4 linked regions of the Homo sapiens genome follow. The protein of the gene in region 4 interacts with the protein of the main gene of each other region in a pairwise test. Each region holds a gene or a part of one and is shown on either strand. Other genes may lie near its edges. The genes, in order: ZNF143, MAD1L1, GOLGA6A and YJU2.

The links.
Region 1: the proteins of YJU2 (region 4) and ZNF143 interact in binary tests that used the Homo sapiens proteins (3 or more experiments, as listed by UniProt).
Region 2: the proteins of YJU2 (region 4) and MAD1L1 interact in binary tests that used the Homo sapiens proteins (3 or more experiments, as listed by UniProt).
Region 3: the proteins of YJU2 (region 4) and GOLGA6A interact in binary tests that used the Homo sapiens proteins (3 or more experiments, as listed by UniProt).

What each region holds. Positions count from the first base shown.
Region 1 is NC_000011.10:9,506,007-9,513,029, reverse strand, and holds part of ZNF143 (zinc finger protein 143), read right to left. Parts: intron 4,412-7,023; coding exon 4,184-4,411; intron 583-4,183; coding exon 434-582; intron 1-433. UniProt on the Homo sapiens protein: Transcriptional activator. Activates the gene for selenocysteine tRNA (tRNAsec). Binds to the SPH motif of small nuclear RNA (snRNA) gene promoters. Participates in efficient U6 RNA polymerase III transcription via its interaction with CHD8.
Region 2 is NC_000007.14:2,215,926-2,222,948, forward strand, and holds part of MAD1L1 (mitotic spindle assembly checkpoint protein MAD1), read right to left. Parts: intron 6,830-7,023; coding exon 6,650-6,829; intron 5,098-6,649; coding exon of another isoform or gene 4,959-5,097; intron 3,532-4,958; coding exon 3,407-3,531; intron 2,119-3,406; coding exon 2,037-2,118; intron 363-2,036; coding exon 232-362; intron 75-231; coding exon 1-74. UniProt on the Homo sapiens protein: Component of the spindle-assembly checkpoint that prevents the onset of anaphase until all chromosomes are properly aligned at the metaphase plate.
Region 3 is NC_000015.10:74,079,536-74,086,979, reverse strand, and holds the start of GOLGA6A (golgin subfamily A member 6A), read left to right. Parts: upstream 1-4,429; 5' UTR 4,430-4,470; coding exon 4,471-4,554; intron 4,555-6,244; coding exon 6,245-6,364; intron 6,365-7,444.
Region 4 is NC_000019.10:4,242,855-4,250,097, forward strand, and holds the start of YJU2 (splicing factor YJU2), read left to right. Parts: upstream 1-4,225; 5' UTR 4,226-4,292; coding exon 4,293-4,316; intron 4,317-6,373; coding exon 6,374-6,474; intron 6,475-7,243.

The sequences.
Region 1 (7,023 bases), on a different chromosome or scaffold from region 4:
TGAGGCTAGTTGAGTGAACTCTCATGATTCCTGATCTCTTAATGGTGCCATCATATGCTGATCACCTCAGCCAAATCTCTGTTTTCTCAATCTCACCTCCTGCATCTAATCAGCCACCAAATCCTATCCCTTTTCTGATCTGTGTTTCACATGGATCCAGTACTTTTGAAGCCCTGAGCCTCTCTGTGGCTGACCTTTATCATCTCACCTTTGAACTACACCAAGAATACCATTCGGATTCTACAGTCACAAACCTTCTCTCTCTCCTAATCTCTCTGCACGTAGTCTCTGTAAGCAGACTACTGAAAAACCTCAGGGTTTCCAAACTTTGTGCCCTGATATTTCAAAGCTTTCCTCAATGGGGACCCAGCCTGCCTTTCAAGCCCAGGTTCACAGAAAGATTTAATTTGTTTGGCTTTTGGTGGATACTTACATGCTGAGTCCCATCCTGGGATATGAGTGTAACTTGTTGACTCAGTCCAGATTGGGTTACTGTGGCTACTTGTGTAGAAACAACGTCGTCCCCTTCTACACCTGTAACATACGTAATCTGGGACCCTTTAAGAACATCTTCACCTTGACCTGTTTAAAACAAATGAATCATTTATTTGACCAACCAACCAATTTGTTTAGAAAATAGGACATTTTAAATATTAAAGAGAAAATTACATAATTAAAATGTACATGTATTATATTCTAAGTCACGAAAATGGCTTCCAGGACCTCCTTCCAATTCCTCCACCTCCACTTTTGCAAAGGCAAACTACATCAAAGCAGACCAAACAAAAAATCTTTCTGCATCAAATTTAAGTGTTCTGATTTTCAGGGACCTGTTTTATTCTCTTAGTTGGAGTAATTACTTGATACTATATGTGTATTAGGGGCGGAGAGGGGAGGAACTGTACAGGAAAACTAGCAAATAACCCTTCAAATACAGCAAGTATGCACTAAATTCTCGCATTCACTTAAGAGGCTGTTAGGCCAGGCACGGTGGCTCATGCCTGTAATCCCAGGACTTTGGGAGGCTGAGGTGGGTGGATCACGAGGTCAGGAGATCGAGACCATCCTGGCTAACACAGTGAAACCCCGTCTCTACTAAAAATACAAAAAATTAGCTGGTCATGGTGGCGGGCGCCTGTAGTCCCAGCTGCTCGGGAGGCTGAGGCAGGAGAATGGCATGAACCCGGGAGGCAGAGGTTGCAGTGAGCCGAGATCACGCCACTGCAGTCCAGCCTGGGCGACAGAGCAAGACTCCGTCTCAAAAAAAAAAAAAAAAAAAGCTGTTAAAGGCCAGGCACAGTGGCTCACACCTGTAATCCCAGTCAGTACTTTGGGAAGCCAAGGTGGGCAGATCACCTGAGGTTGGGAGTTCGCGACCAGTCTGACCAACATGGAGAAACCACGTCTCTATTAAAAATACAAAACCAAGGCCGGGTATGGTGGCTCACACCTGTAATCCCAGCACTTTGGGAGGCCAAGGCGGGCGGATCATGAGGTCAGGAGATCGAGACCATCCTGGCTAACACGGTGAAACCCATTTCTACTAAAAATACAAAAAAAAAAAAAATAGCCGGGCATGGTGGCAGGCGCCTGTAGTCCCAGCTACTCAGGGGGCTGAGGCAGGAGAATGGTGTGAACCTAGGAGGCGGAGCTTGCAGTGAGCCGAGATTGCACCACTGCACTCCAGCCTGGGCGACAGAGCAAGACTCTGTCTCAATAACAAAAACAAACAAACAAACAAAAACACAAAATTAGGCGGGCCTGGTGGAGCATGCCTGTAATACCAGCTACTCAGGAGGCTGAGGCAGGAGAAATCACTTGAACCCGGGAGGCAGGGCTTGTGGTGAGCCGAGATGGCACCATTGCACTCCAGCCTGGGCAACAAGGGCGAAACTCCGTCTCAAAAAAAAAAAAAAAAAAAAAAAAAGAAGCTGTTAAAAGTGGTTAAGACTATTTTCATTTTCATAAACATTAACCACAAAGCCAGAATGGTTTGCAAACACACCCACTGATACTAAACTTGGTCTTTAGCACAACTGATTGATTGCAAACCATCAGTACACAATGACCTCACTGTGTAAAGACAATGTATGGCATATTATCTGAGGTATGGTTAATAATTTAGTGACATAAAAGGAACCTCCATCACTTCTTTATTTCATAAAGAACCAGTAAGTAAACAGCAATTTCAACAATCCATTACTACTATAATTGTCAACCAGGAAGATTCCTGGTCCCTCTCGTCTTTCATCACTTTCTACCTCCCATGAAGTCAGAAAGAGAGCAAAAAAAAAATGTTTCCCCCTCAAAGGACATAATATGCTAATCTAAGAGTACTTCTCAATTCAGTGGTTAATCCATGCACTCATATGGCTACAGTCATCAACGTGTAATTTCCATGACAGACATTACTTCATTCCTTTTTGTTCTGTTCCACAGCTATTTATATACCATTATTCCAACAGGTTACAAAACCCAGTGGATCATGTGAGAGAAAACAGAAATCCATCCCTATTCTTGGAAAAACAATCTTAGTTTAGTTTTGTTTTTAAATAAAATGTATATTATTATATTATAGACTATTTTCTAGAATATAGGAACTTCTGGGCTGGGTACGGTGGCTCACGCCTGTAATCCCAGCACTTTGGGAGGCCGAGGTGGGCGGATCACGAGGTCAGGAGATCGAGACCATCCTGGCTAACACGGTGAAACCCCGTCTCTATTAAAAACACAAAAAATTAGCCAGGCATGGTGGCGGGCGCCTGTAGTCCCAGCTACTCAGGAAGCTGAGGCAGGAGAATGGAATGAACCCGGGAGGCGAAGCTTGCAGTGAGCCGAGATCGCACCACTGCACTCCAGCCTGGGCAACAGAGCGAGACTCCATCTCAAAAATAAAAAAAAAAAAAAAAGAATATAGGAACTTCTGATAACCTGAAATATCAACATTTAAGGAAGAGACTTGAGGAAGCTTAGAAAAAGAGTCTTGCAAACTTAAGTCTGATATCATTAAAGCCTGCTTTCTAACTAAAAAGACTCAGCAGTTGTTGTAGGATCTTCTTATTTACTTCCTTTCTCTTAGCAATTGTCAAATATACAGTACATTATTATTAACTGTAGTCACATGCTGTGCAGATCTCCAGAACTTATTCCTCCTAACTGAAACTGTACTCTTTGACCAGTATCTCCCCAATTGATGTAATATTTAACCATGCACACTTACAGTGTTCTGGCTAGAAAATAATCACCATGAAGACTGATGGAATTGCTATTAACCTACCACCACCTAACAAATACCTGAAAAGACAAATCAGGACTACAAGGAATCATCTGAGCAGATGATCTGTTCTTTCCCTTACTCTCCAACAAACCTTTTCCACCTAAATGTTTTTCAATGCTTCAATATATGTTGTTAAAAATGAAAAAAGATGTCTTCTCTTAATTTTCAAATTTACTTCATTTAGGAGGTACTCAATGAAACTGTAAGACAACTTGCTTTGTTTTGTGTTTTAGAAAAACCGACTTCCTTTTACCTACTTACCTATGCTTATTTATCTGAAATAATTCAATGTAATTCTCTAAAATATTTTTCCAAGGGTTTACTGAAACAAATAATTTTGTCTCTTACAATAACATACTTAATAGCACCTGAATCAATGAAGAGTTATTTGGGAGTACTTCTCTAGTGTTACGATTAAGACCAACATGCTTAATGGACCCAAACAGGCTGGCTGCCCCTGCCTCGCTCTCCAGCCTTGTTTCATATCACCTTCCCAGGCAGAACTGCCCTAACTGGCCAGGCTTCATTCAGTATCTCCAATTTACTTTGGTCTCTCCAACCTCCTGGCTTTCTGCATGTGCCATTCTCTCTATTTGGAACATTCTCTTGCCTTTGCTTCCTGCTTCCCTTCCCAGCAACCTCTGCTTCTTCACCCAGTTAACCCCTATTCAACCTCAAGATCTCTCCAAAAATCCCTTCCTTGACCTCCCAAACTAACATTCCCTTCTATACATCCCAGAGTACCACATACTTTTCTTCAATAGCACTTACTGCAGCTGTAAATTATGTTTATGTGATTATACGAATGACACATTAGGATTTCAGAAAATGCTATGAATCATAAATTATGTTCATAACTGTTGATTCTCAAACTCAGAAACAAAATATAGTAGACAAAACTCTCACCTGGGGGCGGCTCAAAGAAGGCTTCCTGCTCCTCCTCGATGGGCTCAGTGTCGTTGTGGGCTGTCCGTTTGTGCATGGCCAGCGTGGAGATCTGCTTGTATGTCTTCCCACAGTGGTTACAGTTGTAAGGTTTGGAATGAGTGTGGACAACATGATGTTTGTACAAACTGGAATATTCTGTAAACCTTTTGTCACACCCAGGAACTGTACAAACATATGGCTTTTCTCCTAAAGAGCAACACCAAAAAAAAGTTCAACTTTTACATATGTAGGCAAAATCATTCCATACTTCCCCCCCAGGGGGTAAAATACCTCTAAAAATAAAGAATTGCCAAACCCCTCCTCATCCCACCATGAGGCAGCACACAAGAAAAGATTCCCTAACTATGGTTTTGACTTGACTCAAAAGGTAGTATGATCCTTAGTGCTGTCTCCATGCATCAACACCAGGTTCTCCTTAATCTCAAGGAATGAGAAAAGGATGGAGATGTTGCCCAGTTTAACTCTAACTTTAATGAAACTGTAATTTGTTTCCCATAATTAGATAATCTAGATACTGTTATAGTCTATTAATAATAATAAATGCTATTATCGTAACTTATGCAGCTTCCTAAGAATTTCATAAAGATAATAAAAAAGGATTGTCTTTAAAAGTCTATTAAACCTAGTTAGATATGTCAATACAACTAAAAGGACAAACATGTTTCATTTAACTTAACCTGACTTCTTACATCCAATCAAAAGCTACTGAGTATTCACTAATAGCAAGCAGGCAATACATAGGGAAGTAAATACTTTAATTTTTGTCCCATGAAACAGCTTGAGAACATTATAGGCAGTACACATATTTTTAGAACTTTTTACTACAGAAAATTTCAAATATACACAAAAGTATAGAGAAACAGTTCCCCATGTACCAATCATCCAGCTTCAACTATCAGTTCATGACCAATATTGTTTCTTATATTTACTACCCATTTCCCCCTTCTTCCCGACCAGGATTATTCCGAAACAGTTGCAGGTAACATTCTTTTTCTTTCAGGCTGTATACCAAAAAGATGGGTCCCAGTTTAAAAAATATGTAAACAAAATTAATAATAATTACTTAATATCACAAAATATCTAGACAGTGCTAACATGTGGTGGTGTAGGGACCTAAAACTGAAAGCAAACTGGAACAAATTAACCTAATTGTTTAAATGAATACTTTTAACTACACTGAAGGGGCTGGGGTGGGGGAACAAATAAATTAATTAAAGTAGCTCATTTACACAGTATTTGACTTATGCCCTCAGTCTTGGGCTCAGTGGCGAGAGTGAGGGGAAGAATTGCAAACAAATATTCAGCTCATTTGTAGTAGGCTTGTTTACTGTAGTGGTATGGGTGAAGGGATTCTGAAACTATTTTAGATGGAATAAAAGACTGAGCAAATGAGTAAATATTTCAAATGCTGCTGGAAGGGCTCCAGCTGTGGAAAAAGGAGAATACAAATATGGAATGGGGGAAGAAAAACAAAAAGAACCCTGTGGTGAAATGGAATTGGAGGTATTGGTGTGAACTCAGATTTTTAAAATGTACATATGAAAGTGTGTATACATATGCATGTCCTGGTTTATTCTCATTCGACACATTCCTTGGGTAACTGCACCTTTCGCAGTGGTTCTAAACACAGTAAACCCCCCCAAAAATAAGATACCACACTAATGTACCGTAACATAAGTCTTACACATAAAGTAATTGGCGATTTCTTCCTGTCCTCTGCCCAGTTCCCATTCCCAAAGCAGGCAGGTTAATGTTCTTATTTTGGTGGATAGTTGCTGAGATGTGGTGAGGGCAAGAGAAAGGGCAGCCAATTTCAACTTGGAAAAATCAGCCCAATTGATATTTAGGCTAGAGCAGAAACTGCCACTAGGTGGCACCAAACCACAGCCAAGAGGCGAATGGATTTGGATTGAGCTTTTGAGCTCCCTTACTGGCTAGTTACATAGCTTCACCTGGGTCATCTGACGAGCCTTGCAAAGAAAAAAAAAGAAAAAGAAAAGAAAAAAGGACTGCATTTCACAGGTCTGAATCTTTACTCTACTGGATATTGTGACCAGTTATTGTAGCAATTACCTGATCATTAGCCAATCTTTTCTTCCAGCCCAGACCCACCTCTTAGGTCAGACCAACATTTATAACTGCATACTCTCTCTACTTCAATTATTCTCAAAACAGTCTACTAAAAGACCTGGGGAGCTTTAAATACACCCTGATGCCTGGGCCTCACCCCAGTACAATTATGTCAGAATCTTTGCAGACAGGATCTGGGCAATCAGTCTATTTTAAAGAGATACATCCAATATGCAGACTCATTTGAGAGCACTGCTCTACCTAAATGTTCCAAAGACATCAGTATGGCCAAACTTAATGTAGGCATCTCTCTTATTGAATGCTAATTTGCCCATAAAATGTGTTGAATGGCTAGCTTTCAGATAATTAGTCTGTATTCCATTGCTTTTTTCTTTTCTTTTTGAGACGGAGTCTCGCTCTGTCACCCATGCTGGAAGTGCAATGGTGTGATCTCGACTCACTGCAACCTCCACCTCCTGGATTCAAGTGATTATCCTGCCTCAGCCTCCTGAGTAGCTGGGATTACAGGCAGCTGCCACCACACCCAGCTAACTTTTGTATTTTTTGGTAGAGAATTGGTTTCGCCATGTTGGCCAGGCTGGTTTTGAACTCCTGACCTCAAGTGATCCACCCACCTTGGCCTCCCAAAGTGCTGGGATTACAGGCATGAGCTACTACTGCGCCAAGCTCTATCTATATTCCATTAATTTAAATGGGAAAAATAATGT
Region 2 (7,023 bases), on a different chromosome or scaffold from region 4:
TCTCCTGGCGCCCCAGCTTCCTCTGCAGCCCTTCCAGCTCTTCCTGGAGCAGCCCGTTGGTCTCTCTCATCTCCCTGGCAGTGCCACAAAGAGTCGCTCAAATAGCCACACACCCTAGGGATAAGGCCAAGAGCCCGGGAGCCCTGCCCCTACAGGGTCTGCACAGTGGGCTCCATGTGCACAAACCCAGACTCACTCGAGGCGGCTGCCCCATCCCCCGCAACCCCTCACCGCAGGTGCGCGCTCTCCTCCCGCAGCTGCTTCAGCTCCCGTTCCAGCCTAGGGAGCCGTACCAGCTCAGACTTCATGTTCTTCACAATCGCTGCATCCTGCTCTTGCAGGGACAGCTTCTGCTCCAGATCCTGATGGAGGCCAGGGACAGAGAAGAAGGGAAAAATGAGCCACGAAGAGACCTGGAGAAAATCACACGCACACGGCTAAGAGAAGGAAGCCGGTCTGCAACGGCTATACACACTGCAGGATCCAACCACAGGACGTTCTGGGAAAGGAAGGGGTTGTCAAGGGCTCAGAAGGAGAGAGGCAGGGATTGACTGGGGGAGCAGAGAGGATTTTTAGGCAGTAAAACTTTTCTGTGTGACACTCTAATGGCAAATATAGAACATTTTACATCTGCCCGAACCATACACTGTCCCACTCCAAGAGTGACCCTCGCATGACCCGTGGACTCTGCGTGACACTGATGTGTCCAGGCAGGTTCATCACCGTCACACGTGCTCCACTCTACCAGGGTAGGCTGTGTGTGTAGGAGCGGGCGCAGGGGGTACACAGGAGCTTTACCTTCTGCTCATTTTGCTGTGAACCTAAAATTGCTCTAGAAAATACCATCCATTAAAAATTAAAGTCATTGAGGTCACAAAGTTCCTTCGCTAAACTGCCCCAGGTCCTCAGCAGCCTCCATGCCTCAGGACTCTCCTGTGGGAGGCCTTCCTGGGCTGCACCAGGGGCCTCGAAGCTGCTTCCAATACTGAGCCTCAGCATCCACTCCAGGGCAGCTCTTCCCAGCGCCGACCTCCCAGCCCTCCGCGTACTGGGAGCTGGCATTCACACTGCACACTGCCGGGCTGCTGTGCTCACCACCTGCCCTCGGGGAGCTCTCCAGGAGCAAAAGTCTGTCTCAAGTCTGGTCCAGGATGGCACTCCATGGTAAAACATCCCACCCCTCCCGTGTCAAGCCCACTTCTGCCACTCTAGCAGCACGTGTGACAGCTCAGTCTTTCCAATAGTGAGGACAGGCTTTTCCCTACGGTACCCAGTCCCCTTGGGACACAGACAGCTGGCATCTGTGAGCAGCAAGTCACTGAACAGGCAGAGTATGAAACCACGACCAAACCAGACGGTCATTCAACAAACACTAACAGAGTCCATCGCCCTGCCAGCCAGAAAATCCTGAGAGGTGGACTGAGGGCTGCGAGGGGCCAGGGACCACCACCAGGAGCGGACATGGCAGAGGCCAGGCTGGGGGTGCCGGGCAGCTCTGCAGCCAGGAAGAGCTGGTGTGAAGCCTGGAGGTGAGGGTGCATAAGGGCTGAGAGGGCACGGCCAGAGCACAGGGTCTGGAGGCTGCTCTCCAGGCAACAGGAGGCAGGAGAGGGATCTGGAGTCAACGTCTCCCTGGCACGTCCTCCGCAGGGAAATGGCACAGCCTGAGCTTGAGTCAGATGCCCTGACTGAGACCCAGCTCCAGCTGTGCAACTGTGGGCAGCTTTCTCAACCTCTCTATGCCTGTAGCATCTTCTCACGCTCATCAGCACTTGACGTCATCACACACACGGACATTTTCTCTTGGTGTTTGTGGTCAGTCTCCCTCCTCTAGAATACACGCTCCCAAGAGCGGAAGCATCTGCCTCATTCACCATGGCATCCCTGGTGCCCAGCACAGTGCCCAACACACAGGGCAGCAGCTAACCTCACAGAAGGACCACGGAGCTCGGCACCAGCGCAGAAAGGCCGACAGGGGCAGGAGAGTCAAGGCCACCACAGGGATGTCCACAAGGCACTGACAGGGAGTGACTCACCTTAATCTGCTGCTCGTGGTCTGCTCTTGCTTCTTGGCTGGCCTGGAGTTCCTGGATTTTCTGATTGGCTTCCTGGCATTTTCTATTGAAAGAAAAATACATCACACACAGAAACAGGCATGCGGCAAGGCCAACAATTCTCCTCAGCCTGAGACCCGCCCCAGCACAGACCCACATACGTTCATTCCCACCCCAAGGTTCAGGACCTCCCACGGCACAGACCCCCCGCCCCCCGCCAACACACACTCCACTGCATGGGTACCCCAAGGTCCCAGGCCCCAGCCCCTGTGGGCTGGCTCTCAGGCCTCAGTCTGCTCATTCAGACGGGGTGCGTAGTGAGCCCAGGCCACCTGCAAGGACCTCTCCAACAGTGGAACCCACAGCTCTCACCTGCCTGCGGCAACCCCCAGCCCTGGTGCAGCTGCGGTAGGGCCCCACCCAGGAATGACCTCTCCTCTCTACTACGGAACTAGAACTCTCCTAAAACCACATCTGCTGATGGAAGGGTCCAAGTCTGCAGGAGATGCCCACAGTCTCCTGACTGCACCTCCAGACAAGGCTCTCACGTCTGTGCCTCGGCTCAGCCCTGTGCCTGGACATCCCTTCCCAGCCACGCCCCCTCCACCTCCAAGGCACATGATGCTGCCCTTTCAACCTAGCCCTCAGCAGGGTACGGCGGCTCAGCCTGGGATCCCAGCACTCTAGGAGGCTGAGGCAGGAGGATCGCTTGAGGCCAGGAGCTCAAGACCAGCCTGGGTTACAAAGCGAGACCGCCATCTCTACAAAACGTTTTTTAAAATTAGCCAGGTGCAAAACTAATCCCAGCTACTCAGGAGGCCGAGGCAGGAGAATCACTGAACCCAGGAGGCGGAGGCTGCAGTGAGCCGAGATGGTGCCACTGCACTCCAGCCTGGGTGACACAGCGAGACTCAATCTCAAAAAAAAAAAAATTAGCCAGGTGTACTGCACATGCTTGCAGACCCAGTTACTCGGGAGGCTAAGGCAGGAGGATCACTTGAGCCCAGGAGGTTGAGGCTACAGTGAGCCATGATTACACCATTGCACTCCAGGCTGGACGACAGAGTGAGACCCTGTCTCAAAAAATAAAGTAAAATCTGGCTCTGCAGGAGCCCTCTCTAAGAAGGAGGGGGAGGAAGTTGCTGCCCCCATTCTGCTCCAGGAACATCAGGACACTTTCTGGGCTCACGGTCCTGGCTCCAGAGGCCTCAGCATCTGCCCCTCTTGAGTGTCTGTGAATTAGGACAGCATCTGGGAGTGTATCCACATCCCACCCAGCCACCAGGAGAGAGGTGGGACGCATGCCCCCACACGTGACCCGACCCCCGACCCCACACCCTGGCCCCGCCCACTTGTGTTGCAGGTCCAGCTGCTCCTGCAGCTCCTGCTTCTCCGACTCCAGGCGCTTCACCCGCATCTCCTGGTCCATCACGCTCCACTGCAGTTCCGAGATCCTCCCCTTCAGTGCGTTGATGGTCTAAAAGTAGAGGGGACCAGAGAGCCGCTCAGTGAGTGGAGCCCGTGCGTGGAAGGAGCCTGCACATGGAGATGAGAAGAGTGGAGAGGCGACACCACCCACGTGCTATAATCAGGGCAGGAGGCAGAGGGGCAGAGGAATAAGGGGGCAGAGGGGCATCGGGCAGAGGGGTAGGGGGGCAGAGCGGTAGGGGGGCAGATGGCAAGGGGGCAAGGGGGGCAGAGGGCAGGGGGAAGAGGAGCAGGGGAGCAGAGGGCCAGGGGGCAGAGCCACCTCCTTCTGGAGGATGCAGGTCAGGCAGACGCTCACACGCAGGGCCCACCCTCCTCCTGGTGCTCCAGAGCAGCACAGCCCAGAGCCTGCCACAAGCCACCCAGGAGCTGACAGAGGAGACCGGGCCCCAGCCAGGGGCCCTGGAAAGGAGGCTTGGTGAGGCGGCTTCAGAAGCAAAAGCCTCCACCAGCCAAGATGGGCCCGGACTCTCAGGCCTGGCACCTGGCAGTCTCTGTGCCAGTGCCCCACGCTCCCAAAGTCCCATCAGACATCCACATACCCGCCACACCATCACTTCGGTCTTCCCTCCAACCGTGGCTCCTGTCATCCCTCCCTAGCCACCCCAATGCTACCATGACGGCTGTTTGCTAGCGACATCGCCCTCACACCACAGCAAGGCACTGGCCAACCAACAGGACAAAGACGGAGGCTGTGCAAGGGGCAGGGCGGTACCTGCTGGGGAGGCCGTGCGCTTGGAACGGGAGCACGCGGCACGGGCAGGAGCGCCCCTGGGGAGGCGGCCCCTGAGCAAAGCCAGCAGCCCCTCTGGCAGCCTCCAGGACAGCAGGTCTGCCTGACATCATGGAACCCGCACGCGACAGAACCGCCAGGCTTCCTCCTGACCACTCCCACCAGGCGACCTTCTGAGGACCCTAACCCTCTGGAAAAGCTCAGAAAACCCCAGGTGTCCTCAGAGAAAGAAAGAGCACGTGGGTCGAGCCAATGTGAAAAGCCGGACAGACCCTGAGAAGCATCACTGTAAGTTAACACACGGAAACACACGGGCGTGATGTCAGCCCTGGGGACCACGCACCCAGGACAGGACAATGGCAAACTCACACAGCAAACGACCTGGGTGGGCCTGGCTGGGCGGCACCCTCCGCAAACAAGGAGGCCTCAGCACTCATTTCCCTGTCCCTGAGAACGTGCCCAGCTTAGGGCCTGCTGAAGCCTATCACCGCTGTCCACCCCACGCCGCTCTGGGAAGGCCCGCATGGGGGCTGCGTGCTCCCCACATGCCCACAATATGTACGGTTTACTTCACCACAACAGTGAAGCATCAACCTGGGAGTCAACAAAGAAGAAAGGTATTAAAAACATACTAACAATAAACACATCCTCCCAGAGGTCTTCCGAACTCAATTAATACGCACCGTGTGCCAGGGGCAAGGCCAGATGCAGGGCCGAGCCCACCTGCCCACAGGGTCACCCGTGTTGTAGGGGACGCCGGACAGTTGGCAAGGAAGAGGCGCATAAGATAATTCCAGAGTAAGGAGCGTGACAATCAGGACCCTGTGACAGGAGAAGGCAGTCAAGGCCTAGTGCGCAGGGAGGGCTTCCCTGAGGAGCGGCCACCTCGGCTTAGACATGACAGGCCAAAGCAGCAGCACCTGCAGCGCCACCATCTTCCCCTCACTATGCCCCACCCCACCGGGCACCGCCCTGCGGCTCCTGCAGTCTCCTGCTCCTCTGCCCCTCATGAAGTGCTCGGCACGACTCACCCTCCCCCATGGAACCACAGGTGCCCGCAGGCAGCGGGGACAGCCCCCGGCCCAACTCCAGTACAGCCCAGCACATGGGAACTGGAACCCAGAGCATGGGCAAGGCAAGAGCAGCTTCTCGGGAGCCAATCACGCCTCCTCTCCTGCCAACGTTCCCTCCAGAAGCAGATAGGGGAACAGCCTGAACACGCCTCCCCAGCACGGCCACAGGAAGGACCCGCGGCCAGTTTCTGGACCCCTCCAGGACCCCCGCTGCACGCCCACCCCACCCCTACCACGCCTCCACCCCCACACCAGCAGATTTTCATGTTTCCTCTTGGCACCAGCGATCTTGATCGCCACAGACAAAGGACAGGAGAGGTCAGAAGATTCCAATTTCCACCAGTGCCCATGTCTGGGCTGTTTCTAAAATGCAAGCAACCTTCACCAGGACTGCAGTTCACACAGGCTCCAGTTCAGAGGCAATTATCCGACGCCATCAGATGCCTGTAGACCTTGCAGACAGTCAAAGATATGCAAATCCAGACGTGCCTCCTTAAGCCTCCTGACAAAACAACAGCTATTTCCAGAAAAGACCACCATCCACGACAGGGAAGGCTACGGGGAAATTGGAGCCCTCAGCCAGGCCTCTGAGCACAACGGCTGCAGAGACCGCCATCGCTAGGGACCTTATAACCCAGTCCTAGGGGTCTGTCCAAAGTCAACAGAAGCGAGGGCTGAGGGAAGGGCTACCTGTCGCATACATACATGAGCGAACACAAACACACTAAACGTCCACAAACAACAAAAAACAGATTCATCATCCATTTAAATTCATAATTACAAAGGCAAAAAAGTGCTTAACTTTTTTTTTTTTTTTTGAGACAGAGTCTTGCTGTGTTGCCCAGGCTGGAGTGCAATGGTGTGATCTGAGCTCACTGCAACCTCCACCTCCTGGGTTCAAGCGATTCTCCTGCCTCAGCCTCCCGAGTCCCACAGGCTGGGACTACAGGTGCGCACCACCACGCATGGCTAATTTTTGTATTTTTAGTAGAGATGGGGTTTCACCATGTTGGTCAGGCTGGTCTCCAACTCCCAACCTCAGATGATACACCCACCTCGGCCTCCCAAAGTGCTGGGATTACAGGCGTGAGCCACCGCGCCCGGCCCAAAGTCTCAACTTTTTAACTGAAAACTACAGAATGGAAAATTAATACTTCTACTGATGACAACTATGTACAAAACGCAGCTGCCCGTGTGGGAAGCACAAGTGAAAACACAAGCGGGCACTGCAGTGGCAAACAAGAGCATGCACTCCCTCTCCTCGGGAAAACAGCTCCCTGCGCAGCAGAGGCCCCGCTCACCTCGCCAGCCTGGGCCAGACTGTCCTCTTTCTCACGCAGCCTCTTGCTGGCAGCATCCAAGTTCTGCTGACACTGCCTGTTGCGCTCCAGCTGCTCCTGCATCTTCTCCTCCGCCCCGGCCTCCCGCTCCTGAAGCTGCCGGATGCGCGTCAGGAGCTCCTGGTTGCGGTCGACCTCACGCTGTTAAGAGAGCAAGAGTCAGATGCCACGTGCCGCCCACGGGAGGGTCAGCGGGGAGCCCTCACCCCCACACCTCTCTCAGAACATGCCGAGGCACAAAAAAGAGCCGAGCAGGACCCATGAGCCAAGTCATAGGCAGAACCAGGACGGGACCTGGGACCCAGCCCCAGCGTTGGCACCCCCGCTGTGGCACC
Region 3 (7,444 bases), on a different chromosome or scaffold from region 4:
AACTACCAAGTAATGATTATTTGGGAAAAGAAGAAAAGCAAAACCAGCTTGTAAACACTTCTGGAACGTGGGTAAGGGGCCAAAGTCAAGACCTTCTGGGCCCAGTGCAGGTGCTAGGCTTGCCTCGGGACACCATCAGCACTTCCCCATCCACAACATCCTCAACAGCTGGGAGCCATGTGCAGACCCCAGGGGGCTTCCTGTTCCACAAGCTCCCCTCTCTTTTTCCTCTCCACCCTTGCTGTTGGGCCTCCCTTCCAAATCTGCCTAACAAAGGCAGCAGGATCTTTAATACTGTTCAGCTTTGTCAATGGAGACAGGATACTCTAGAAAGTTGAGAGATTCCCTGGTCCAGTCTGGGGGAGGAAAAAATATGCAGTGTAGCATAGATGGTTGTACTTGTCCACTCAGACACATGCTCATACTTATTAGATGGATGTATCAGATGCTTCAAAAGTCCTGATGTGTAGTAGCACAAAAGCTGCTTGTAAAAAGGAAGTTGCAAAATGATAAAAATTTCTGCAGCAGTTCAGGCTCCTGATGACAAAGCTGGTTCTGATAAGTAGTTCTTTTGACATGCACAGCAGGTTTCACTGTAAGTCCTGTGTTCCAGCGGTTTCATTTAGACCACGGGAAGTTGAAAGCAAAGTTTAAATGTTCTCTGCTGACAAAATGTGGTATATATCCATCAATGGACTTCTACTCAGTAATGAAAGGAACAAACTACCAAAACCTGTTATATGTCATGGACCAACCTCAAAAACCTTAGCTAAGTAAAAAGCCAGACATGTGACCACATATTGTATAATTCTGTTGATTTGAAATGTCCAAAAAAGGCAAGTTGATAGAGACAGAAATGGTCTGATTTACCTCAAGAAGTAGGGATTCAAGCTCTTAGGGTACATGTGATACATACATTAGAAGAAATAAGGAAAAGAAAAGAAATTTATATGTAAATAAATGAAAATAATACTTCTCCCTGATTATAAAGAAAATTGCATTCTTTTTGTAATAATTTGGAAGACAAAATATGAAGAAAAGTCTTTAATTTTGCCACTGAAAGCATTCTGGTTTGTTGCTTTTTATATTTTTTTATGCATATGAACATTTTAAAAAGTAGAATCGTAATATATAGTCTTTTGTCACTATGTTTTGGGCATATTTCTATGGCAGTAAATATATCCTTGGCATCATCTTTTTAAAAGCTCGATGTGTATTAAGTTAATCATTGCCACCCCAGAAGTAAATTTTCTTATATATATATTTTAATGGACGCAAGCAAGCATTTTGGGGCTGAAGTCATAGAAGTAGAATTTCTGGAGAAAAATAACATAAAATAGTTTTAAGATTTTTAATAGAAATTTTCAAATTATCCTGCAGAAAAATTGGTTCAGTTTATACTCCCAACAGGGGCAGAGCTCCAGTATCCCGTTTCCATTTGTCCTCTTTGCTGATATTTAAGGAGAAAATCTCATTGTTTTCATTGTATTTCTTTGGTTTCTAGTGCTTTTGAAACTTTTTTTTTTTTTTGAGATGGAGTCTTGCTCTATGGCTCAGGCTGGTGTGCAACAGTGCAATCTCGGATAACTGCAACCTCTGCCTCCTGGGTTCAAGCGATTCTCCTGCCTCAGCTTCCCGAGTAGCTGGGATTACAGGTGCCCACCGCCATGCCTGGCTAATTTTTGTATTTTTTAGTAGAGATGGGATTTCACCATGTTGGTCAGGCCCGTCTCAAACTCTTGACCTCAGGTGATCCACCCACCTCGGCCTCCTAAAGTGCTGGGATTACAGGCGTGAGCCACGGCCCTGGCCTTGAATCATTTTTATGTGCTTATTGGCCATTTTTATTCTTGTGGGAAGTGCCTGTTTCTCCATTGCCTATTTTCTGGCCAAGCTCCCAAGTCACATTTCACTTAATTTTTATCCTGCTGATTGAAAGCATTTTAACATAAACAGGAGCAGGACAGACTGTAATTATCTAGATCTTGCTCTGTCACCCAGGCTGGAGTGCAGTGGCATGATCATAGCTACCACAGCGTCGTACTCCTGAGCTGAAGCAGTTTTCATACATCAGCCTTCCAAGTAGCTAGGACTACAGGTGTGTGCCACCACCCCCAGCTAATTTTTAAGATTTTTTGTAGAGATGTGAATTCACTATGCTGCCCAGGCTGGTCTTGAACTCCTGACTTAAAGTGATCCTCCCACCTTGGCTTGCCAAAGTGTTGGGATTACAGGTGTGAACTACTGCTCCTGGCCGAGGGCTCATTTTGTTTGCTAGTGGTGATATTGGTATCTGTTTATATTTGAGGCTTTGGTGCTAGTGCTGAAGTATTACACTCACCATCCGAGGTTTGCAGGACTTTTGTTTTAATATTGAATAGATGGAACTGTTTACTTCTGCATCTTTGCAGGCATACAAAATGTGCCTACCAGGACTCTGCTTTATATCTATTGAAAGCAAGAAGTAATACAGTAAAACTTTGCCTGGCTAGAGGCTTTGGAAGAATGGAGTATTCTGATTTAATGCTATTGAAGTGTGAAGGTGAAAAGAATGAAAAACTTACATTTCCTGTTGAATGCAACTTGAAAATACAGCCAGTGATTCCACTTTTCTTCTCTAGTAAGTTTGGACATTCTGATCTACTTGGTGTTTTATTATAGAACTGCTAGTGTGCCCGAGACTTACATTGTGAAGACACTTTTTAAAAAACCTGAGAGGGAAGAGGGTGTAAATGGTATTGTGTGAGATCAGGCTGGATGAGAACTGACACTTGTAAACATACTTTTTAGGCTGAATCTCTGATTGCCGTTTGTTTTCTTATTTAACTCATAAAAATAAAACACATTGGATGGAGGGTGGGAGCAGGAAGGAGATTTATGTCTTTTAATTGCATGCCATTGTTTCATATCAAGACAGAACATATGGTATCCCTGGCTTTGGACCTACAGAAGGAAACACATTTTTCTGCCTGCTGTATGCCAGAGGTTCTTGAACACCTGGAGGGATGACTGCAGCACAGATTGCTGAGCCCTACTCCAGAGTTTCTGATTCACCATGTCCAGGGTGGGGCCTGAGAATTTGCACTTATAAAAGGTTCTCAGGTTCTGCTGCTGCTGCTAGTCCAGAGACTACATTTTTGAGAACCACTCTTGTCTACTAACTGTAAATTGTAGAACTCTAGAACAAAGCTTAGTTTGGTGTAGGAAAAGACGCTCACAGGTTATGGAGCAAATCATGAAAGATTCAACCCTTGATCCCAGCCTAGTGTGGAATTCAGGTAACAATCAATACACAGTGACATAACACAATTCTTGGTTTTCATGATTGCAAGTCATAGCCAAGTATCAAGTGAGAAATTCAGTTTCATTTGCAAGGCTTAGAGAGGCCAGGTGATTCTAGAAAAATAGGCCTTGTATTTGCTTTAAACCAGTAAAGAGCTTTGAGTGCTTATTAAATGGAAAGCTTTGTGTTTTTATTTATTTTTGACTATTTTATTTTATTTTTTTGAGATGGAGTCTCAGTCTGTCACCCAGGCTGGAGTGCAGTGGCGTGACCTTGGCTCACTGCAACTTCCGCCTCCCGGGTTCAAGTGATTCTCCTGCCTCAGCCTCCCCAGTAGCTGGGATTACGGGTACCCACCACCACACCTGGCTAGTTTTTGTATTTCGAGTAGAGACAGGGTTTCACCATGTTGGCCAGGCTGGTCTTGAACTCCTGACCTAAGGTGATCCACCCACCTAGGCCTCCCAAAGTGCTGGGATTACAGGTGTGAGCCACCACACCCGGCCCAAAAGCTTTGTGTTTTTAAAGATATTAGACATGTTTCTTGTTTTTTAAAAAATCTTAATAATGTAGGAGAATAAGAGAAATGTTTTTTCCAAAGCCGAGAAATCATTGTGATTATTTTACCTTATTGGGATGTTGGATAATATAGTCCACTTCATTCATTAATCATCAAACATGCTATGGATTTTCCATTTTTATAGGATTTGTGTCTTAACTGGGGTAATACTGGTAATTCTTATACTCCCTCTGAAGATGAAAAATGTAGGCCAAAATCATAGACCATGCATAGAAGCTGGATAATGAAGACAGCTCTGGAGGAACATGTAGACACACACACACTGACACACATATATATAAAGTATAAATACATATTTTTTTAAAGTTTATTTTTAACATTTTAAAGCAAAAACCAGCCCTCCCCTCTCCCGGAGTAGGCAGGCCCCGCCCCTCTCCCCAAGTGGGCAGGGACAGCAGTCGCATGGGCAGCTTTCCTTGTGATGTCACAGGTTCCTCTGGGCACACTGCTGCCTGGCCACGCCTCCTTTCCCTTTCATCTTTCTCATTGACCAATGGGATTGGAGCATTAAGGCCACACCCCTATTCTGCATTCTAGTGTGGCCCTGGTTACGCCTCCTCTGGCTCAGTCACACAGCAGCCTTGTAGGTGACTGGAGGTGTTCGCTGATGTGGCCCCAACCCTACCTCCCTCCCCACCCCATGATGTTAGAAGAATCTCGACAGAATAAATTGGCAGCAGCCAAGAAAAAGGTAAAAAGCCAAGAAAAAGGTCATGGCCCCCCAACCTAGCCAGAGATCCCCTCTGATGACAAGACCACTCCCAGAGTCCATACCACTCCTGAGGCACACCGGGCTGGGCCCCCCTACCCCGGCGCCTCTGGACTCCCCCCACCAACGTCTTGTCAGTCAGCCCCGCCCCTTCAGCAAGCAGCCCAGCCTCTGCCCTCGCCAATCACCCTGCGGTGACTTTGGGCGGATGACTACTGGGGATACCTGCTCCATATTCAGCCCTCACGTCCTGCCACCCCAAGCCCAACCTCCCTGGGTTCTTTGGGCTCACCTCTCCAAGGACCTGGGTCCCCCAGCCCCAACCCCCCAGCATCGCCAGTCATCCCGGGGTGACTTTGGGCTGGTGACTCCTGGGGTTCCCTGAGCAGACTCTGCTCTCCCCTCCTGCTGACCCAAGCCCGACCTCCCTGGGCTCTCTGGACTGGCATCTCCAAGGACCTGGGTCCCAGCCCCACGTCCCCCCTCCCCCATCGTGGATCGGCAACTCAGCCATTGCACTGATGAGGTTTCCCCCACCCCCAGGAGGAGTGGAATGTAGTGATGTCACAGTCCTCCTAGGAACTGTCATTACTGCTGCAAGACCGGCCTTTGATCTTATAACCCAGTCCCCTAAGCATTCTCACCCCATTTCTGGTTCCTCTGGTCACAGCACAAATTTCCAGCTAGAAGGGAAATGGGGACCATGGGACCTAGGAGCAAGAGGTTTCAGGCTGCCTTACTCCCTTCACATAGACATCGACAGTGTGAAAAGCCTACACTTCCCCTGTGAGCTCAAAACGTTGACAGTATCTCTGGGTGGTAATGGGAGAATGGGTTTGGTTTGGTTTTCTCCCAGGCTTCTACTCTCCAGAGAGACTTTAACATTTTTTTCCGAGTTCTCCACCTCATATTCTAATTCTCCACGGTTCTGGGACCAGACTGCCCTTCAGTCAGTGGTCTCTGAAGTGAGATTTGCTCATCTTCTGTGGAATAGGTCTTGGGAAACTGAACTTGACAGCTTGAATCTTCCTCATATCATCTCAACTTAGGGTACATTGAGTGCCACAGGATAAATGTGGGAGATCTTTCTGAAGCATCAGTTTCCCTTGATTCTCTTGAGAGAGAAAAAACATTAATGTACTTAGGGGTGACCCTCACATAGGTTTCTAAGAGTATACCAGACTTCTCTCTGAAATGAGACTTGGGTTGTCCTCTTTCTGATAAATTCCCAGATTTAACAAAAAAGCTGCCTTCTGCCATGAGGACACATTGATATAAAAGTTTGAGAGATACTGGTGCACTTCTTCACACTAACAGGCATTTGAGGATGTATGACTCTAAACCACACAGCGTGTAGTTCATGCCTATGTAATGTTTACTTTTCTACCTCTGCGTCTGGTTTTGGTCCCCGGCAGCTGCTGATTCATGGCAAAACCCCAGAGCTTGGAGTCAGAAGACTGAGTTTAAGTTCCATTATTGCCCCCCCACACTTTTTTTTTTAGCCATAATATCCATCCCTCTCAGTCACTTAAGTGATTGTGACAACACCTTGTACAGTTGTTGGTGGCATTAAATCAGATGGTGTATAAGAGTATTTTGCAAAAACTGTAAGGAGGGTGTGGCTGTAAGGGCTGGTAGTTCTCATGAGTATTACTGCTCTTCTTTCCCACAGCTAAAAGAATATCAGCAAAGGAAGAGCCCTGGTATTCCAGCAGGAGCAAAGACAAAAAAGAAAAAAACTGACAGTAGCCCTGAGACAACCACTTCCGGTGGTTGCCACTCACCTGGGGATGTGAGTCTTGGCTGGCCAGGCTCCTGGGGACAGGGGGCCCAAGGGGCAGTAGAGGGTAATTGTTGAGATTGCTGGGTACTGGTTAAGAATTCTGGGTTTGAATCCTGCTTCTTCATCTGCTAGCGATCTGATTTATGGCAAGTTGCTTGAGCTCTTTGGGCCTCTCTTTTCACATCTGTAAAATAGGGGTAGTATTGTTTGACTTCCATTTGTGAAGTTTAAATGAGATTCCTTATTGTTGTTGTTTTCATGTTAACCCCCAGTACGTGGCCTGCTGTAAACACCCAGGATACCCAGGAAATGGTCATTGCTGTTTGATTTTCCTGATCCCCACTCGCAAGGGGAAGCTGGGCTAATGAGTACAGCCACTTGCCATCAGGCTGTCCCTCTAGGAGTCACTGAAGGGGGCCCAGGGTGTGGTGAGGAGAGCCCAAGGCACTAGGAGCAAGAGAAGGTCTAACTTGCCACCAGCTTGCTGGGTGACCACAGAAAAATCACTTCTTCTGCTGGGCCTCAGTTTCCTCCTCTGTAAGATGATACTGGATAAGATCAGTGTCTTTCAAACTTGTTTTTTAGCTGAAGTCCCCTTAGTTCAAGTGAACTCTTACTCAGGAGTCTGTTTTTTTTTAATGGAGGTGGAGGTCTGGAGCTCTACCAGATTCATCGCCCATGTCCTGGGCCTGAGGAGAGGGGTCCAGTGAGCGTATTAAGATCTGCATTGGTCAGCTGACTCCACTCTGTGACTGCGTCACTCGGGGGACTTTTCCATCTATTTTTTCCTGCCCCTGGCAAGGCAGCAGGTGGCCATTTGGAAGAATGGCACAGGCCATGGTTTTAATCTCCTCTGCTCTTCTTCAGCGTTTCCTTTTCCTGAACCCACATCTTCCTCCTACCCTGACTTTCTTGCTTCTCTCTAAGCCACTTCTGTCTTTCACCCCCTGCCCTTGTTTTTCCCTTGTCACCTCCTGTAGATTCAGGACATTCTGAAGGTGCGGGTGTCCAACCTTAACCACTCCAATGGGGTAGTGCTCCCCCATTGGACAAGTGGAAGGTGAGGCAGTGCCAAGACCCCTCTCTGGC
Region 4 (7,243 bases):
TGGTTTTATAGACAGAAAAAGGCTGAGTAAAGCAGAAATAGAAAACAAAAAGTGGATTGGTCTTTTCAAAGTTACTTTTCTTGTCAAGTTTAGAGCAAAGGAGACTATCGTGCTGGCTAAAACAGGCCTGTTCAGGGATTTTTTTTTTTTTTTTTTTTTGAGACAGTCTCGCTCTGTCACCCAGGCTGGAGTGTAGTGGCACAATCTTGGCTCACTGCAGCCTCCACCTCCCGGGTTCAAGCGATTCTCCTGCCTCAGCCTCCCAAGTAGCTGGGACTACAGGCGTGTGCCACCCTGCCCAGCTAATCTTTGTATTTTTAGTAGAGACAGGGTTTCACCATGTTGGCCAGGATGGTCTCAATCTCCTGACCTCGTTATCCACCCGCCTCCCAAAGTGCAGGGATTACAGGCATGAGCCACAGTGCCTGGCCTTTTTTTTTTTTTTTTTGAGACAGAATCTGGTTCTGTTGCCTAGGCTGGAGTGCAGTGGCATGATCTGGGCTCACTGCAATCTCCGCCTCCCAGGTTCAAGCAATTCTCGTGAGTCAGCCTCCCAAGTAGCTGGGATTACAGGCACCCACCACCGCACCCCGCTAATTTTTTGTATTTTAGTGGAAACGGGGTTTCGCCATGTTGGCCAGGCTGGTCTTGAACTCCCGAGCTCAGGTGATCTGCCTGCCTCTGTTCATGGATTTGACTATTCCCTCTCTTTCTCTCTCTCCCTCTCTCTCTCTCTCTCCCCACTTCCTTCCAGTTCTCGATTTCTTGGAAAACCAGAAAAACAACTTAGTTTCAGCTTGGTGTAAAACTTCCGCATGAGGGACTTCATTTTGGTTTAGTCTTTTGGGCCTAGTGCAGGAGCTCAGTCCAAACCCATGGCTTCCTGTAAACTTTATTTAACACCATTCCTTGTCCCATATTATTGTCTTCCTGGTGCCAGGAAAAGGGGTCCCTAGCTGGGTGTGGTGGCTCACACCTGTAATCCCAGCACTTTGGGAGGCTGAGGTGGGTGGATCACCTCTTGAACACCTCAGGAGTTCAAGACCAGCCTGACCAACATGGAGAAACCCCGTCTCTACTAAAAATACAAAATTAGCCGGACGTGGTGGCACATGCTTTTAATCCCAGCTACTTGGGAGGCTGAGGTAGGAGAATAGCTTGAACCTGGGAGACGGAGGTTGCGGTGAGCCGAGATTGTACCATTGCACTCCAGCCCGGGCAACAAGAGCAAAACTCCTCAAAAAAAAAAAAAAAAAAAAAAAAAAAGGAAGGCTACTCAGTTACAAAGTAGGGCGTCCTCAGAAAACAAGAGGAGGAACGCCTTGTCTTTGTTTTAAGGTTTTTATTTTTATTTTATTTATTGATTTATTTTTGAGATGGAGTCTTGCTCTGTCACCCAGGTACAATGGCACGATCTTGGCACGATCTTGGCTCACTGCAACCTCCACCTGCCAGGTTCAAGCGATTCTCCTGCTTCAGTCTCCTGAGTAGTTGGGATTCAGGCATGTACCACTGCGCCCAGCTAATTTTTATATTTTTAGTAGAGACGAGGTTTTACCGTGTTGGCCAGGCTGGCCTTGAACTCCTGAGCTCAAGTGATCCTCCCACCTCGGCCTCCCAAAGTGTTGGGATTACAGGTGTGAGCCACCATGTACAACCGGTTTTTTCTTATATAGGGGTCTTATCTGTGTGAAAGCTATGTCCACGTGTAGGTGGGCTGACCGCGTGACAAAACGTAGTACTTTGTCGACTTAAAGAAAGTTATCCTGGCTGGGTGCAGTGGCTCACACCTGTAATTGTAACACTTTGGTAGGCCGAGGCCGGCAGATCACTTCAGCCCAGGATTTCCAGACCAGCTTGGGCAACATGGCGAAACCCTGTCTCTACAAAAACTGCCAAATATTAGCCAGGTGTGGTGGTACCTATAGTTCCAGCTAACTCGGAAGGCTGAGGTGGGGGATCGCCTGAGCCGGGAAGTGGAGGCCACAGAGAGCCATGATTGCGTTACTGCACTCCAGCCTAGGTGACAGAGCGAGACCCTGTCTCAAAAAGTATACATACATATCCTTGCCATTTTAGTGCCTAAGTACATTACACCATGACTATAACCATATTTTCTTTTTTTTTTTTTGAGATGGAGTTTCACTCTTGTCACCCAGGCTGGAGTGCAATGGCGCCATATCGACTCACCGCAACCTCTGCCTCCCAGGTTCAAGTGATTCTCCTGCCTCAGCCTCCCAAGCAGCTGGGATTACAGGCATGCACCACCATGCCCGGCTAATTTTGTATTTTTAGTAGAGACAAGATTTCTTCATGTTGGTCTGGTTGGTCTTGAACTCTCGACCTGCACCACCGCACCTGGCTAATTTTGCATTTTTAGTAGAGACGGGGTTTCTCCGTGTTGGTCTGATTGGTCTTGAACTCCTGACCTCAGGTGATTCGCCCACGTCGGCCTCCCAAAGTGCTGGGATTACAGGCGTAAGCCACCATGCCCGGTATCTTTTTCTTTTTTTTCTCTTTTTTTTTTTTTTTGAGATGGAGTCTCACTCTGTCGCCCAGGCCACAGGGCAGCGGCACAATCTCGATCTCAGTTCACTGCAACCTCAGCCTCCTGGGTTCATGCAATTCTCCTGCCTCAGCCTCCCAAGTAGCTGGGATTACAGGTTCCCGCCACCACGCCCGGCTAATTTTTGTATTTTTAGTAGAGATGGGGTTCCACCATGGTGGCCATGGTGACCAGGCTGGTCTCGAACTCCTGACCTCAGGTGATCCACCCTCCTTGGCCTCCCAAAGTGCTGGGATTACAGGCATGAGCCACCGCGCCTGGCGACTATAACGATCTTAAAAGCATACATTGCTATGCAATATCAGGACATCTGGACCTTCCATTGTTGTAGTAGTGTGTCCTCCTAGGCATTTGTAAGACGTTTTCTCAATTGTAAACATCTTATGACCCTGGCTCGTGACTGGCAGCGAATGTGCCTTGTTAATTTTAAGATGGAGTTGATTTTTGGCCAGGTGCAGTGGCTCATGCCTGTAATCCCAGCACTTTGGGAGGCAGAGGCGAGCAGATCACCTGAGGTCAGGAGTTCGAGACCTGCCTGGCCAAAATGGTGAAACCCCATCTCTACTAAAACTACAAAAATTAGGCAGGTGTGGTGGTGCGTGCCTGTAATCCCAGCTACTCGGGAGGTTGAGACAGGAGAATCACTTGAATCCTGAGGTGGAGGTTGCAGTGAGCCAAGATCGCACCACTGGAGGCAGAGGTTGCAGTGAGCCAAGATCGCACCACTGCCCGTCAGCCTGGGCAACAGAGCAAGACTCCTCAAAAGATAAATAAATAAACAAACAATTGCCACAGCAACATCAAGAAGTTACCCTATATGGTCTAAAAAAGGGAGGTATGAATAATCCACCCCTTGTTTAGCATATCATCAATAAATCACCATAAACATGGGCAACCACCAGCCCTTGGGGCTGCTTTGTCTGTGAAGTAGCCATTCTTTTATTCATCTACTTTCTAAATAAACTTGTTTTTGCTTTGCACTGTGGACTCGCCCTGAATTCCTTCTTGCACGAGATCCAAGAACCCTCTCCTGGGGTCTGGATCCGGACCCCTTTCCTGGAACAATCTGACACAGAGGAAACGTCCATGAAAGGTGGGGAGGAGGCTGGGGAAGGAGGCTGGGGAAGGAATGGGATGGGAAGTCCTCGTTAAGGGGAAGGCACAGGTGGGCAATGGAGGGACATTTGGGAGACACTGCGTATGTTTAGGAAGTTGGTTTGGAGCCTGATCTTTAAGTCAATGTCTGTGACTCAAGAGTCGTCCAGGGTCCTCTTAAGTCACCCTATGTGTGGCCCCAACCCCATGTGAGAGTTGCGGGCCCAGGAACGATGTGTGGATTCCCAGAGCCCAGAATACAAGGCAGGCGCATAATACATATTTGCTGAATAAAAGAATGAAGAACAAGAGGTCACGTTACAAAATTTTAACGAGCCGCTGCCCGCTTCTAGGGGGCGCAGCGCACTATACAAAATTCTCCAATTCCACATGGCTCCCGGAATCCTTATTTCGCGCTACTCAGGTTGCAACTCCGGAGGGAAGACGCTGGGACTTCCAGCTTGATAGGCGGGGATTGGAACCAATGAAAGAGGTCTGCTGTGTATGCTGCAGCCAATAATAGCGGCCGAAGGAAGTGACGTTTGCGGAAGTAAGGCTTCCGTCGGAAAAGCTCGATAATTACCCAGCCTAACCATTTCTCAGGTGCTTGCGAGGTGATCAGAAGGCAAAGATGTCGGAGCGAAAAGTATTAAACGTAAGTGTTGGGCGACTGGGGCTTTTCAATCGGAGCAGGACATCCCGGAACTCCGGGAGAGGGAGGAGCTTCCTGAGATCTCTTCTTTGGAACCCTTCTTTCCCAGCGGCCTTCCGCGAGATGGGGCTTCCCAGACTCCTCCCTAGACTCCTCCCCATCGCCTTCCGTCGGGGGGGTGGGCCTTCGCTAAGTCTCCCTTCTGGGCTGGGGTGTAGTTAGTCACCTGCGGGGCGTGGCTTGGGCTTTTACCCAATCACCACCAGATAGGGTTTTTTTTCTGGGGGCGGGGCTTCCTTAAATGCTGGCGGCCGTGTTTTGCCCTCTTCTTGAGGGGCGTGGCTCTGAGAAGCCCCGCCCCACTTGGGGACTGTAACCAATCGTGTACTTTGGGTGGGGTGGGGTGGGGTGGCGCGTGTGTGTGTGTGTGTGTGTGTGTGTGTGTGTGTGTGTGTGTGTGTGTGTGTGTGTGTGTGTGTGTGTGTGTGTGTGTGTGTGTGTGTGTGTGTGTGTGTGTGTGTGTGTGTGTGTTTTGTTTTTTTTACTGGGGTCTGGTCATGCAGATAACCTCTGCCTTACAGTGGCCAAGATTTTACTGGGGTCTGGTCATGCAGATAACCTCTGCCTGACAGTGGCCAAGATTCCAGACTCCCAGAAGAAAAGCAGAGGTTCAGTATAAACTATACTGTTGGCACACTTCTGTTTTTTGGTTTTTTGAGATGGAGTTTTGCGCTTGCTTCCCAGGCTGGAGTGCAGTGGCACGTTCTTGGCTCACTGCAGCTTCTGCCTCCTGGGTTCAAGCGATTCTCCTGCCTCAGCCTCCTGAGTAGCTGGGACTGCAGGCGCCCGCCACCATGCCTGGTTAATTTTTTTTGTATTTTAGTAGAGATGAGATTTCACCATGTTGCCCAGGGTGGTTTTGAACTCTTGATCTCAGGCATTCCACCCACCTCATACTCCCAAAGTGCTGGAATTACAGGCGTGAGCCACCGCGCCCGGCCCCACGCAGGTCTTTCTAGGAGAGCAGTCTCAGGCTTGCTGTAGGAACTCCTGGGAAACAGGAGCCCTGGGATACAAAGGGAGTGTGAGTATGGATTATGACAGATACCTCCACTGCACCACTGGAAAATAAAGCACTTTGTGTTTGGAGCACCTACTGGGTGCCAGACACTGCAAAGAGCACTTTATCCCCCTTGCCTCAAGGAATGCGTGCAAAGACTCTTGGAGACAGAGGACAGTGTGCGCATTTCACAGAGGAGTAAACTGAGCCCTGCAGGTTTCAGCTCCTCAGGATTCAGATCCAGGGAGATGACTCTGTAGGAAACGGATGTAGTATCGTGATTGGGAGGCTGAGCTAACAGAGTCCTGGTTTACCCTCTACAGAATTGCTGGGGAGTTGGGACTCCTCGGGGAACTCGGTCTCCTGCCTGAACAACAGAAGTGCTAAGCAAAGCTTAACCTCTACAAAGGGCAGGGCATGATGGCTCACGTGTGTAATACCAGCTCTTTGGGAGGCCAAGGCAGGTGGATCACCTGAGGTCAGGAGTTCGAGACTAGCCTGGCCAACATGGTGAAACCCCATCTCTACTAAAAATACAAAAATTAGCGGGGAGTGGTGGTGGGCGCCTGTAATCCCAGCTACTGTAGAGGCTGAGGCAGGAGAATCGCTTGAACCCAGGAGGCGGAGGTTGCAGTGAGCCAAGATCGCGCCACTGGACTCCAGCCTGGGCAACAAGAGCAAAACTCCGTCTCAGAACAAAAACAAAAACAAACCCTGGCTTTTTAGAGCTTCCCGTGTAGACAGCATTTCATGTGTATTGTCATGACTGGTATTTAGGAGAATTAAATGCGTCCTGTATAACTCCACTAGGAGAGAGTCAGGAAGCTTGTGCCTGGCCTCCCTCTGACTGTACTGAGTCCTGCGAGTCCTCCCTGCCTGTCGCGGAACCTGGGGTGGGCTTGGGGACCCCCGACACAGCTCCCCAGAGCCCCTTCCCTCTGCCATGTCCTGCCCCTGCTTCTGAAAATAACTCCCCCAACGTTTCCTTCCTCCCCTGCAGAAATACTACCCGCCGGACTTTGACCCATCAAAGATCCCCAAACTCAAGCTCCCCAAAGACCGGCAGTACGTGGTGCGGCTGATGGCCCCCTTCAACATGAGGTGAGCACCCCCTGCGTGACCCCACACACCAGTCATGGCTGAAGGACGCAGTGCCTGGCATCCACAGAGGTGACTCGTCCGGTGTTAAGACCAGATCACTGGTCTTAGACATTGTCCTGGCTCAGACATTGACCATTCCAACCCTCCTTCGCCTCACCACTTGGGATTAAGCTTTGGATCTTTTAGAGCCCTCCAGCCAGTGCCTGCCTTGAGATCATGGTGGTTAGTAAACGTGTGTGCAGAGAGGATAGGACGCCACAGAGATGCAGCCCCATAGATATATTTCAGCTCCTCCAACAGCCAAGCTCGTTCCTACCCCAGGGCCTTTGCACACACTGCTGCCCCTGCTTGGAACTCTCTCCCTCTACTTTCTTTCTTTCTTTTTTTTTTTTTGTTGAGACAGAGTCTTGCCGTGTTGCCCAGGCTGGAGTGCAGTGGCGTGATCTCAGCTCACTGCAACCTCCACCTCCTGGCTTCAAGCGATTCTCCTGCCTCAGCCTCCCAAGTAGCTGGGATTACAGGCGTGCACCACCACGCCCGGCTAATTTTTGTATTTTCAGTAGAGTTGGTGTTTTACCATGTTGGCCAAGCTGGTCTCGAACTCCTGACCTCAGGTGATCTGCCCTCCTTGGCCTCCCAAAGTGCTGGGATTGCAGGCGTGAGCTGCCGCACCTGGCCTTCTCCTTCTACTTACACATGGCAGGCTCCTCTTGTCTGCCATAGGTCATGGCTCCAATCTCACCCCTCCGGGAGGCCTCCATCATCCCCT